Homo sapiens: one gene and its partners. The protein of the gene in region 3 purifies or fractionates together with the protein of the main gene of each other region. This does not show direct contact. Each region holds a gene or a part of one and is shown on either strand. Other genes may lie near its edges.

What was found.
Region 1: the proteins of MTMR10 (region 3) and LRCH3 purify together in Homo sapiens (affinity purification with mass spectrometry; one large-scale study listed by BioGRID and IntAct). This does not show direct contact.
Region 2: the proteins of MTMR10 (region 3) and KIF20B purify together in Homo sapiens (affinity purification with mass spectrometry; one large-scale study listed by BioGRID and IntAct). This does not show direct contact.

What each region holds. Positions count from the first base shown.
Region 1 is NC_000003.12:197,794,088-197,797,820, reverse strand, and holds part of LRCH3 (DISP complex protein LRCH3), read right to left. Parts: intron 1-3,733. UniProt on the Homo sapiens protein: As part of the DISP complex, may regulate the association of septins with actin and thereby regulate the actin cytoskeleton.
Region 2 is NC_000010.11:89,721,946-89,725,678, reverse strand, and holds part of KIF20B (kinesin-like protein KIF20B), read right to left. Parts: intron 1,716-3,733; coding exon 1,576-1,715; intron 660-1,575; coding exon 521-659; intron 1-520. UniProt on the Homo sapiens protein: Plus-end-directed motor enzyme that is required for completion of cytokinesis. Required for proper midbody organization and abscission in polarized cortical stem cells.
Region 3 is NC_000015.10:30,957,129-30,960,628, reverse strand, and holds part of MTMR10 (myotubularin-related protein 10), read left to right. Parts: intron 1-1,507; coding exon 1,508-1,595; intron 1,596-1,677; coding exon 1,678-1,766; intron 1,767-3,500.

The DNA of each region.
Region 1 (3,733 bases), on a different chromosome or scaffold from region 3:
AGGCGCCATCTCAGCTCACTGCAACCTCCACCTCCCCGGCACAAGCGATTCCCCTGCCTGTCTCCTGAGTAGCTGGGATTATAGGCGCCTGCCAATGGCACCCAGCTATTTTTTGTATTTTTAGTAGAGACGGGGTTTCACCGTGTTGGGCAGACTGGTCTCAAACTCCTCACCTCAGGTGATCCACCTGCCTCGGCCTCCCAAAGTGCTGGGATTACAGGCGTGAGCCACTGCGCCCGGCCTAGTTTTAGGATTCTATGAATTCTAGTACAGGCCTAGTTACTGAATCTTTTTTCTGTTTCTGTTTTTTCCCAGACTGATTCCTCTTTCCACCTTTTAAAATGCTGGTATCTCCCTGAGTTGACAGTGCCTACCTTTTCCATTCTCTACGTCCTTCCTCCAAGAATCTTATAAACTCTCACTATGACTCTCTTGAATTTATTCCATAGCCTTAATTAACTTCACTCTACATCTTTTTTTTTTTTTTTTTTTTGAGATGGAGTTTTGCTCGTTGCCCAGTCTGGAGTGCAATGGCGTGATCTCAGCTCACTGCAACCTCCACTTCCAGGGTTCAAGAAATTCTCCTGCCTCAGCCTCCCAAGTAGCTGCGATTACAGCCATGCACCACCACGCCCAGCTAATTTTTTATATTTTTAATAGAGATGGGGTTTCACCATGTTGGCCAGGCTGGTCTTGAACTCCTGACATCGGGTGATCTGCCCGCCTCGGCCCCCCAAAGTGCTGCGATTACAGGCGTGTGCTACCATGCCCAGCAAATTTTTTTGTATTTTTAGTAGAGACAGGGTTTCACCATGTTGGCCAGGCTGGTCTTGAACTCCTGATCTCGTGATCCACCCACCTCAGCCTCCTAAAGTGTCACTCTACATTCTAAAGCTCTAGTTTCTATTTGTTTCTATTTGTCCCACATGATTCACTAGATGTGCTACCAACCCTTCAAAGATATTGGGCAAACCAAAGAAATTACAGGAAACCAACTTGTCGGTATAATTATTGATCAATAACACAAATTTTAGGGTCAAATGTATCAGAAATTGAATCCTAGTTTTGTCACTTATTAGCTGGGAGACCTTGATCAAATTATTTAATCTCCTGAGCCTCAATTTTCTCACACGTAAAATGGGGTCAAAAATAGTATTTACAACTTACTATGGTTGTTTTTGTTCATGTTATATATAGACACACACAGCTTAGCACAATACCTGGAATATGTTAAGACCTCAATAAATGTTAGCTACTATTATAAGCAATAGCATTACCATCTTTCTAGTCTTACAGGTTTAACAGTGATCTTGGACTCCTATCCTTTTTTAAATAAATTCAATCAGCATTTGTACATTTTCATTGTCCAGTATGATCTCAGTGTACCAGGATTTCATTCCCTCACAGCTTTCTGTTATGCAGCTACCCAACCAGATTACTAGATTTAAAAATATTCGTAAGGCCTCATTTTTGTTTCCTCTACATTACCCAGCATAATGCCTAAAACATAGTAGTTGTGCTATTATTGCACAATTCAAACAATCCTTCCACCCGTCTATCTCCCCATTAGATCCCTTGAGTTCTGTCAGGGCAGGGAGTGTCTTGGTCCTCTTCATACACCAATAACTGCCGAAGTCCTTTAGTCAATAAATGTCTGTTGAATGAATGCTGACCTCTAAAGCTATTGGCTATCTAGCTTCCTCATATACGAAAGGCAGCTCTTATATTCTCTAATCCAATAATTTATTTTGACCAAATTTGTCTCACCACAATATCATCACGGGTAGTTTCACTGTATTAGTCAGGACCTTTTTATCATCAAAAAATTCTGGCCGGGTGCGGTGGGTCACACCTGTAATCCCAGCACTTTGAGAAGCCAAGGCGGGCGGATCACAAGGTCAGGAGATTGAGACCAGCCTGGCCAATATGGTGAAACCCCATCTCTACTAAATATATAAAAATTAGCCAGGCGTGGTGGTGGGCGCCTGTAGTCCCAGCTACTCAGGAGGCTGAGGCAGGAAAATCACTTGAACCCAGGAGAAAGAAGTTGCAGTGAGCCGAGATCATGCCACTGCACTCCAGCCTGGGTGACAGAGCGAGACTCCATCTCAAAAAAAAAAAAAAAAAAAAAAAACAACAACTTTTTTACTCACCTTAAGCAGAAAGAAGAATTTATTAGCTCACATAATTTGAAAGTACAGAGATAGCACTGACTTTAGGCATGGCGGCTGACCCAAAGGTACAAACACTGCCATCAGAACTTCCATCTTTTGGCTCTGCTTCCCACTTATTGGTAACTTCCAGGCTAACATCCTATTGTCTCAGCAACCCCAGGGCTCAAAGCATGCCTCTTTCTCAATAGTTCAACAAAAAATTCAGTTACTCATGTGTGCTGATTGCAAAATGGGCCCACCTCTGAACAATCACTATGGCCAGAGCAATGGACTATATACTGACTGACCATTAGCTAGGCCTGAGTCACTGGCATACCCTATGCCAGGGTGGGGTTCATATAACTGAGAGGGGTGGTTCCCTAGGAAAATTGGAGTACTATTACCAGAAGGGACTGAATAATGGACTGGCAAAATTAACTGATGTCCCTTATACTCTTAACATTTTTTGCGTGCTGTCCACCACTGCCTAAAATAGCTTTCCTTCTTGTTTCTGCTTGCCCAAATCCAAGTTATATCCTTTCTGCTTCAAGAAGTCTTCTGTGATGTCTTCTAAGACTTTCCTTGTCCACTGGATCAAGTCACCCATTCCCAAATAAATATTCCCCTTTTCCAAAAGATTAATATTTTTTTTTCTTTTTTTTTTAAGACAGCACTTACTCTGTCACCCAGGCTGGAGTGCAGTGGCACAATCTCAGCTCACTGCAACCTCCGCCTCCTGGGTTCAAGCGAGTCTCGTGCCTCACCCTCTCAAGTAGTTGGGATTACAGGCACCCGCCATTACACCTGGCTAATTTTTGTATTTTTAGTTGAGACCGGGTTTCACCATGTTAGCCAAGCTGGTCTGGAACTTCCGATCTCAGGTGATCTGCCCGCCCTGGCCTCCCAAAGTGCTGGGATTATAGGCGAGAGCCACCAGGCCCAGCCAGATTAACCTTTCAAAATAAACAGCACAGAAAGTCCCAAGAAAACGTTCCCAATAAGTTCAAAATCATGTCTAATTATAAATATGGGCAATATATGCTGTTCCCTAGGATACGAATTTGAAGGACAACAGCTCTACCATGTACATGCTACACATTATGAAAAAACAGTATGCAAGGCAACTTTTATATATTAGCATTCAACTAATTTTACTTGGCTTTAAATTTTCTATAAGGTCTAAGCATACCTAATAACTACCATAAGTTGGTTCCAAATTAATCAAAGTACCTGCCATAAAAACAGACTATGGCTTTTGGAGTCACCTCAAACTAGACTAAACTCCTGGCTAATACCGTCTCCTCTGTCCTTTAGCCACAGATCTTTGAGCAAATTAGTGAACATCTCTAAATGCTGGTTTCCACCATCTGTAAAAACAGGAACAGCAACACCTATTTCTATATGAAGAGGTTGCATGGTACAGTGGAAAGAACAGAGTTAGATGAACCTGGGCCAAAATCCTACCACTGATACTACATAGTGGTGATAGCTATAACCTGGGCCAAAATCCTACCAGTGATACTATATAGTGGTGATAGCTATAACCTGGGCCAAAATCCTACCAGTGATACTATATAGTG
Region 2 (3,733 bases), on a different chromosome or scaffold from region 3:
TGCTTGAAGCCAGGAATTCAAGATCAGCCTGGGTAACACGGCAAGACCCTAACTCTAAAACTATAATAAATAAATAAACAAATAAAATTTTAAAAGAGTAAGAAACGGTAGTTGCCCGGCAAGGGCAACCCTTTTTATACATAAACATTTTTGTTTTAATCAGAACAGCAAGTAAATGACGTCTTAGGTCTCTTACACCTTTAAAATTCTTTTTATTTAAAAATGTTAAGTAAGACAAATCTCAAAAAAGAATCTATCTGCCTACAACACAATGATTCAAGCAATACCAAAATAAGATATATATATATATAACAGAGGTATAAATTTTTCAAAACCAATCATTATATTTAAATTCTTGGTGCCTTACACTTCTAAAAAAACATGCCTAATTATAATAAAGCTACACACAAAGCATTGTTTTAATTCTAAACTATCTTGGTGTTTCTCATCATTGATGTGGTACACTAAACCCTGGTACCAAAACCTCACTGGATATTTTTAAATACTTCAATTAACATACTTCAGTTTCAACTTTTGTGGCACAAATGTCTTTCGCTGCTTCTTCTCGAGTGTCACATTTACCAACCAAATCCTTGAAGATAGCCAAACGACGTTCAGCATTTTCTTCTAATATCTCTCGTTCTTGAAGCAGAGTCTCCCTTCAAAATACAAATTAATCCCATTAAGAAACAGAAAACGAACTACTTTGTGTTTTTGTTTTAAACATCTAAGTTTAAGTATATTCTAGATTAAAAGAAAATTTAGTCCAGGTACAGTGGTTCACGCCTGTAATCCCAGCAATTTGGGAGGCGGAGGCGGGTGGATCACTTCAGGCCAGGAGTTTGAAACCAGCCTGGCCAACACAGCAACACCGTCTCTACTAAAAACACAAAAATTAGCTGGGCGTGGTGGTGTGTGCCTGTAATCCCAGCTACTCAGGAGGCTAAGGCAGGAGAGGCTAAGGCAGAAGAATTGCTTGAACCCAGGAGGTGCAGGTTGCCGTGAGCCAAGATCGCACCACTCAATACCAGCCTGGGTGACAGCACAAGACTCCATCTCAAAAAATTAAAATTTAAATTTAAAAAAGAGAGAAAATTTAAATAACCATGCATGGGATTAGTTACAGCTATATTCTTTTTTTTCTTCTCTGAGACAAGAGTCTCACTCTGTCGCCCAGGCTGGAGTGCAGTGACACAATCTCAGCTCACTGCAACCTACACCTCCCAGGTTCAAGAGATTCTCGTGCCTCAGCCTCCTGAAAGCAGCTGGGACTTCAGGAACATGCCAGTACGCCCAGCTAATTTTTCTATTTTTAGTACAGACGAGGTTTCACCATGTTGGCCAGGCTGATCTCGACCTCCTGACCTTCAGTGATCCGCCTGCCTAGGCCTCCCAAAATGCTGGGATTACAGGCGTGAGCCACCGCACCAGACCAGTAACAGCTATTTTCAAGCTTGTATAAAGAGATCAGAATTCAGAAGCCACCTAATATAAAAAGTAAACTAAGTAAAAAAAAAAACTAAAAAACTAAATAAAATTCTCAATTTTTACCTGGACATGAAATAAATAACTTACTTAAAGTCAGCTTCCCGTTGAGCCCAATACTGAGTAAACTCCTGTGTAACTTCTTCTCGAATTTTAAATTCCAAGGTTAATTTTTCCTTTTTTTCATTTATCAGTTTTTTTTTCAAGTCTTCTATTAAGTCCAACAGTTTCTATTACATGTAAATGATAAAATTCTTATAAAAGAATAAATATATCCCAAGAGAAATACCGTCCAACTGTTCAAAAAATAAAACTTTACATTTAGTCAATTGTAATTCTGTGTCCTTTTTAATAGTGATAATGTTCTCACTGAAAATTATATGTTTGCAAAGATTTGTTAACTGAAAAATCAGGTTGGCCTTTCCACATTTTAGAAATAGACCTTTGGTAACTCGTCTCACTGTTTAGCTATACTAAGAAAATAAGTAAAGTTAATTAGTGCATTTATTATCTATCAAGAACTACTCTGGGGAGTTCCATATTTGCTTCATTTAATCCACAACTTTCTGTGAGCTTGGTATCATCCATATTTCACAGGTGGGAAGCATAAGGATCAGATCTCTGGTAAATGCTAAAGGTTGAGTTTAAAAGTGGCCTGTAAAAGTCTAAAGCCCAAGGATTGCATACACCAGAGAAGTTGCTAAGAACACCCACTTACTAATCTGTCAAATAAAGATGTTACATAAACTTATATTAGGCTTTTATAACTATCCAGATGTCAACAGCAATTCTATAGCCTTTGAAACACATACATAATCATGAAAAATGTGCAATATATAAATAAAGCAATAAATAAAACACTTAACATGACCATTATACATTCATAACATAAATTGTAGCATTAAGGAAACAGCTACATATTCTTTTTAATGTTTCTATTTAAAGTTACTCAACAACAAATTAAACAATAAACTCTAAGCTACAGATCTTCCAATGTCTCAACTTTATATTTGAAAATAGTTCTACAGCTATCCAGACTTTGAAACTCTGCCTCCAAGAATTTATACTGAAAATAATTATAATATAACCCCATGTTCTGGTTGTATGAATGCTGATCACAGTGTTGTTGTTTTGTGATGGTAGTTGTGTTTAAATAATGAAAAAGTGAACCCAACTCAACCAATGTTAAAGGATTGGTTTAATTATGGTACTACCATAAACTACCGTAATCAATGATAACCTATATTAATAATTCATACTTTTCACAATTTATTTTTATATAAAGAATACCAGGTTACAAAACAGTAATATATAATAAAAATCCATTAACATTCATGGTAGATTTGAGAGATCTTTATATTTAGATTTTCTTTTTCACTCTACTATAAATACATAATACTATTTTAATAATTTTAAACTACATACTTTCTGAGTAAAACAATAAATAATAACTATTGAAGGAGACATCAGAATGAATGTGGAAAAACCTTGGGAAGTTTGTTTATTTTATTTATTTATTTTTTTTGAGACGGAGTCTCACTCTGTCGCCCAGGCTGGAGTGCAGTGGCTCGATCTCGGCTCACTGCAACCTCCGCCCCCCAGGTTCACGCCATTCTCCTGCCTCAACCTCCCGAGTAGCTGGGACTACAGGCGCCAGAAACCACGCCTGGCTAATTTTTTGTATTTTTAGTAGAGACAGGGTTTCACCGTGTTAGCCAGGATGGTCTTAATCTCTCAACCTCATGATCCACCCACCTTGGCCTCCCAAAGTGCTGGGATTACAGGCATGAGCCACCGCGCCTGGCGGGAAGTTTAATAGTTTTCAATAATTAGGTTTTATCATTGTTAGCATCTGATAAAGTTTTTGCTGAAAAAATTTAGGCTGGCTATTACAGCTAAACGAATTTAAGTATATGTATGCTAATACCAAGGTATTTTATAATGGTTTTTAAAAGTCCCAATCCTTTAATTAAAATGTCAAGAAAGGGCTGGGCACATTGACTCACATCTGTAATCCCAGCGCTTTGCAAGGCAGGAGGATTGCCTGAGCCCAAGGGTTCAAGATCAGCCTGGGCAATAGAGCAAGGCCTCATGTCTACAAAACATTTTTAAAAATTAGTTAGGGGTGGTGGCATGCATCTGTGGTCCCAGCTACTCAGGAGACTGAGGCAAGAGGATCACTTGAGCCCAGGATTTCGAAGCTGCAGTGAGCCATAACTACACTATTGCACTCCAGCCTAGGTAACAG
Region 3 (3,500 bases):
GTGTTTTACAGTTGGTTTGTTCATATCAGGATCTAAAGTCTTCACATTGAATTTGCTTAATATGTCTCTTAGGCCTTTTAATCTACAACAGTCTCCTCCCACCTCTTTTTTACCTACTATTTGTTGACAAACCAGGTCATTTGTTCCCTAGAATTTTCCACATTGTAGATATTGCTTGTTTTATCCCCAGGGTGTCCCGTAATGTGTTCCTCTGTCTCTAATATTTCCTTTAAAATGTTAGCAACAGAGGCTTAATCGGATTCAGGTTCAGTACTTTTGGCAAGAATGTTTCATTAGGTGGTTCTGTGTTCTCCTGTGGAGTCACATCCCATCTCAGGCTGGCTGGGCTGTGTCTCTCTCATTGTAATCCTGACGACCAGTGGGCTTAGAGGGTGTCAACCTGATCCACCCAGTAAAAGTTCCCCTCTTATATCATGGTTTGAGCTCCCAAAAATAGTTTTGCACTGGGAGGGAGGATCATTGCTCAGATCGTTATTTCACTAAGGATTGCTATTGTTCACCTTCTAATTCTATCATCTTTCTGCTTTTATCGAACTTTTCTCTCACCAGCTCTTTAGTGCCCTGTAACACAGTTCGTACAAGAAAAGCAATATAAATATCTACATTTTCTCCTTTACTTAACATTTTTCCAAATAGTGAGCTGGTTCCCTAGGGGATCTTCTAGAAGTGACTAGGAATTTGTTTTTTTAATTTGTTTAATGTCATTTAGTTATTATGAATTTTTTGGAATGCCTTATTTTAAGGTCATTGAAGTCCTCATTAGTTCACGCACATAAGCAGCTTTTTAGAAAAAGGAAGAAAAGCACTACTGTGTTATTACTGGTTAATCCAGTACCAGGAACTTCTAGTACAGTTCTAGAAAGGTGCTTTGCAGCATGTAGCTTGTATCTTTTGCTTCCCCTGGAATTTAAGCTTCAAGGCCAGCACACTCTGGTATATGTGCTGAGAAACATGTGATGGGGCTGCCCAGCCACGTCGGGGAAAGAAGGAAGATGTCTTGAGGTGCAGTGAGCTTGCCCACTAGTAATTATTGTCTGATCAGTGTCCTAGAGTCTGACTGTGCCTTTTAGGCATGGGGAAAGGTAGAAGAGGGACTTAAGAAGAGAGCTAAAGCTCCTGGTAGATTTGTGGGGTTTTCTTTTGTTTGCCTGGTGTCCTTAACCATAGCCTGTCAAGAGAACAAAGGTGGATATATTTTTCAGTGAACACATACATGTTTAATAGTCATTCTGGAAAATATTTCTAATACCTTCTTTGGAATTTTCTCATGCTATAAATTTAGATTTTTAAGAATTGGTCATATCGCACCAATTTTAGACTAAGAGGTGTAGGATCGTCACTGCCCCCCCATGGTGCCCACCATGTGGCTACTAAGTGGGGTGCACATTAAATGCGGACAACTTGCTTAATTATTTATAGGGTCTGCAGGAGCACACTATTCCTGCTTTTAGCACAGCACTCATATAATTTTTTTTTTCCCCTCCAGCCTTCCAGAATACATTGTAGTGCCAAGTTCTTTAGCAGACCAAGATCTAAAGATCTTTTCCCATTCTTTTGTTGGGAGAAGGATGCCAGTAAGTGATTTCTGTTGGATTTTATGAATGCTGACGTCCATTGTTTCTACACAGTGAAGTAAGGATTCTACCTCTCCCCTAGCTCTGGTGCTGGAGCCACTCTAACGGCAGTGCTCTTGTGCGAATGGCCCTCATCAAAGACGTGCTGCAGCAGAGGAAGATTGACCAGAGGTAATTGAGAAATGGTCATTGTCACTTTAGATAGTTTTACTTGTTGTGTAACTACAGTGAGTTCCCTACTAATTGAAAATAACAAAATGCATAGTCTTACTAATTAGTTAGCACCATGTTTTATATAAGAATTGCCATTTTGAAAAGAATGTGATAATATTAAAATTAACTGACATTGGAGTTACACTAAATATAATTTAATTATTTGGTTTGTAAGACACTTGTGGATCTTACATTGCTGACATCTTGCTATAGCATTTCCTATAACATACTTTCAAAGTGCAGTGATATCCAGTTGAGACACTTCAGGATAAATCAAACTTTTCTTGTAGTTTGATGTGTCTTATTTAGGTCTACACATTTGCAATAGCTAGAACAGTGGTTTTAATTAGCCACCACAGACGAGTCTGGCATCATCTGCTGTGGTCATTAGTAACCTCCACGTCATTAAAGTAGGAGGCCTTTCTCAGTTGTGCTCATAGCAGTGAGCAATACTATTGATCACTCTCTCCTTAAACCCGCCTGGGCCCTCAGCCTCTGCTCCTCTCCACTCTCCTGAAGCTCCTCTTCCTCACTGGCACTCCGTGCCTTCTGCAGACCCATCCTCTTCTCTCCAGACATTACACAGATTCTAAGGCCGCTTCCTCATGTTCTGTATTCTTTTCCTAAAGAAGTTTCCCCAAGAATGTGGCTTTAGTGACCAACACATTTATATCTTCAGTCTACCTTGACTTCTACATGGAGGTCTCAAAGACCCCTTAAACTCATTATGTCCAAAACCAAACTCAAGGATATGGCCTCCATGCCCTCCCCCAGCCTGCTCTCAGAAACCGGGGGGTCATCCTGGATGCCTTCCTCTTTCTTTCCCTTCCCCATCACCAATCCCTCCTCAGGTTTTCTCACTTCACTTTTCAGACACCTTGCAAACCCATGTGCTTCCACAAACCCAGCTCCACCTCTGCCTGTGTGTTATAAGTGCTATCATTTCCTCCTTCCATGTCTCCTCCACCCCTGGGCTCCAGCCCCCTGGACTTTCCCTGGTGTTTTCAACCTCCTGACATTGTCCAGCGCTCTTCCCTTCTGGACTGCCTTCTTTGCACTCATCTGGGAACACTCTCCACGCTTACCCACTTGGCACTCCTTGTTTCTTTTTTTTTGAGACAGAGTCTCACTCTGTCACCCATGCTGGAGTGCAGTGGTACGATCTCGGCTCCCGGGTTCAAGTGATTATCATGCCTCAGCCTCCTGAGTAGCTGGGATTACAGGCACCCACCACCACATCCAGCTGATTTTTGTATTTTTAATAGAGACAAGATTTCACCATGTCGGCCAGGCTGGTCTCGAACTCCTGACCTCAGGTGATCCACCCGCCTCGGCCTACCGAAGTGCTGGGATTACAGGCGTGAGCCACTGCACCCGGCTCACTCATTCTTTATATCTCAATTCAAACATCATTTCCTCAAGATAAGCCTTCTCTCCCCTCTAAAGTTTGATCAGACCTCAAAAGTCTATGTTCTTAGAGCTCCTGAGTTTTTAACATTTATTTCAGTTTTTAATTATATATGTGTGTGTTACAGTTTGATTACCGCCTGTCGTTTTTACTCCATGAGATGAGGGACTATGTCTGTTTTGCACACCGTTATATATTTAGCACCCAGGAAGCATATATGATATTTATTCAATACTTGTTGAATAAATGAGGAGTAAATGAACAGATCTTATAAAACAGGCTTA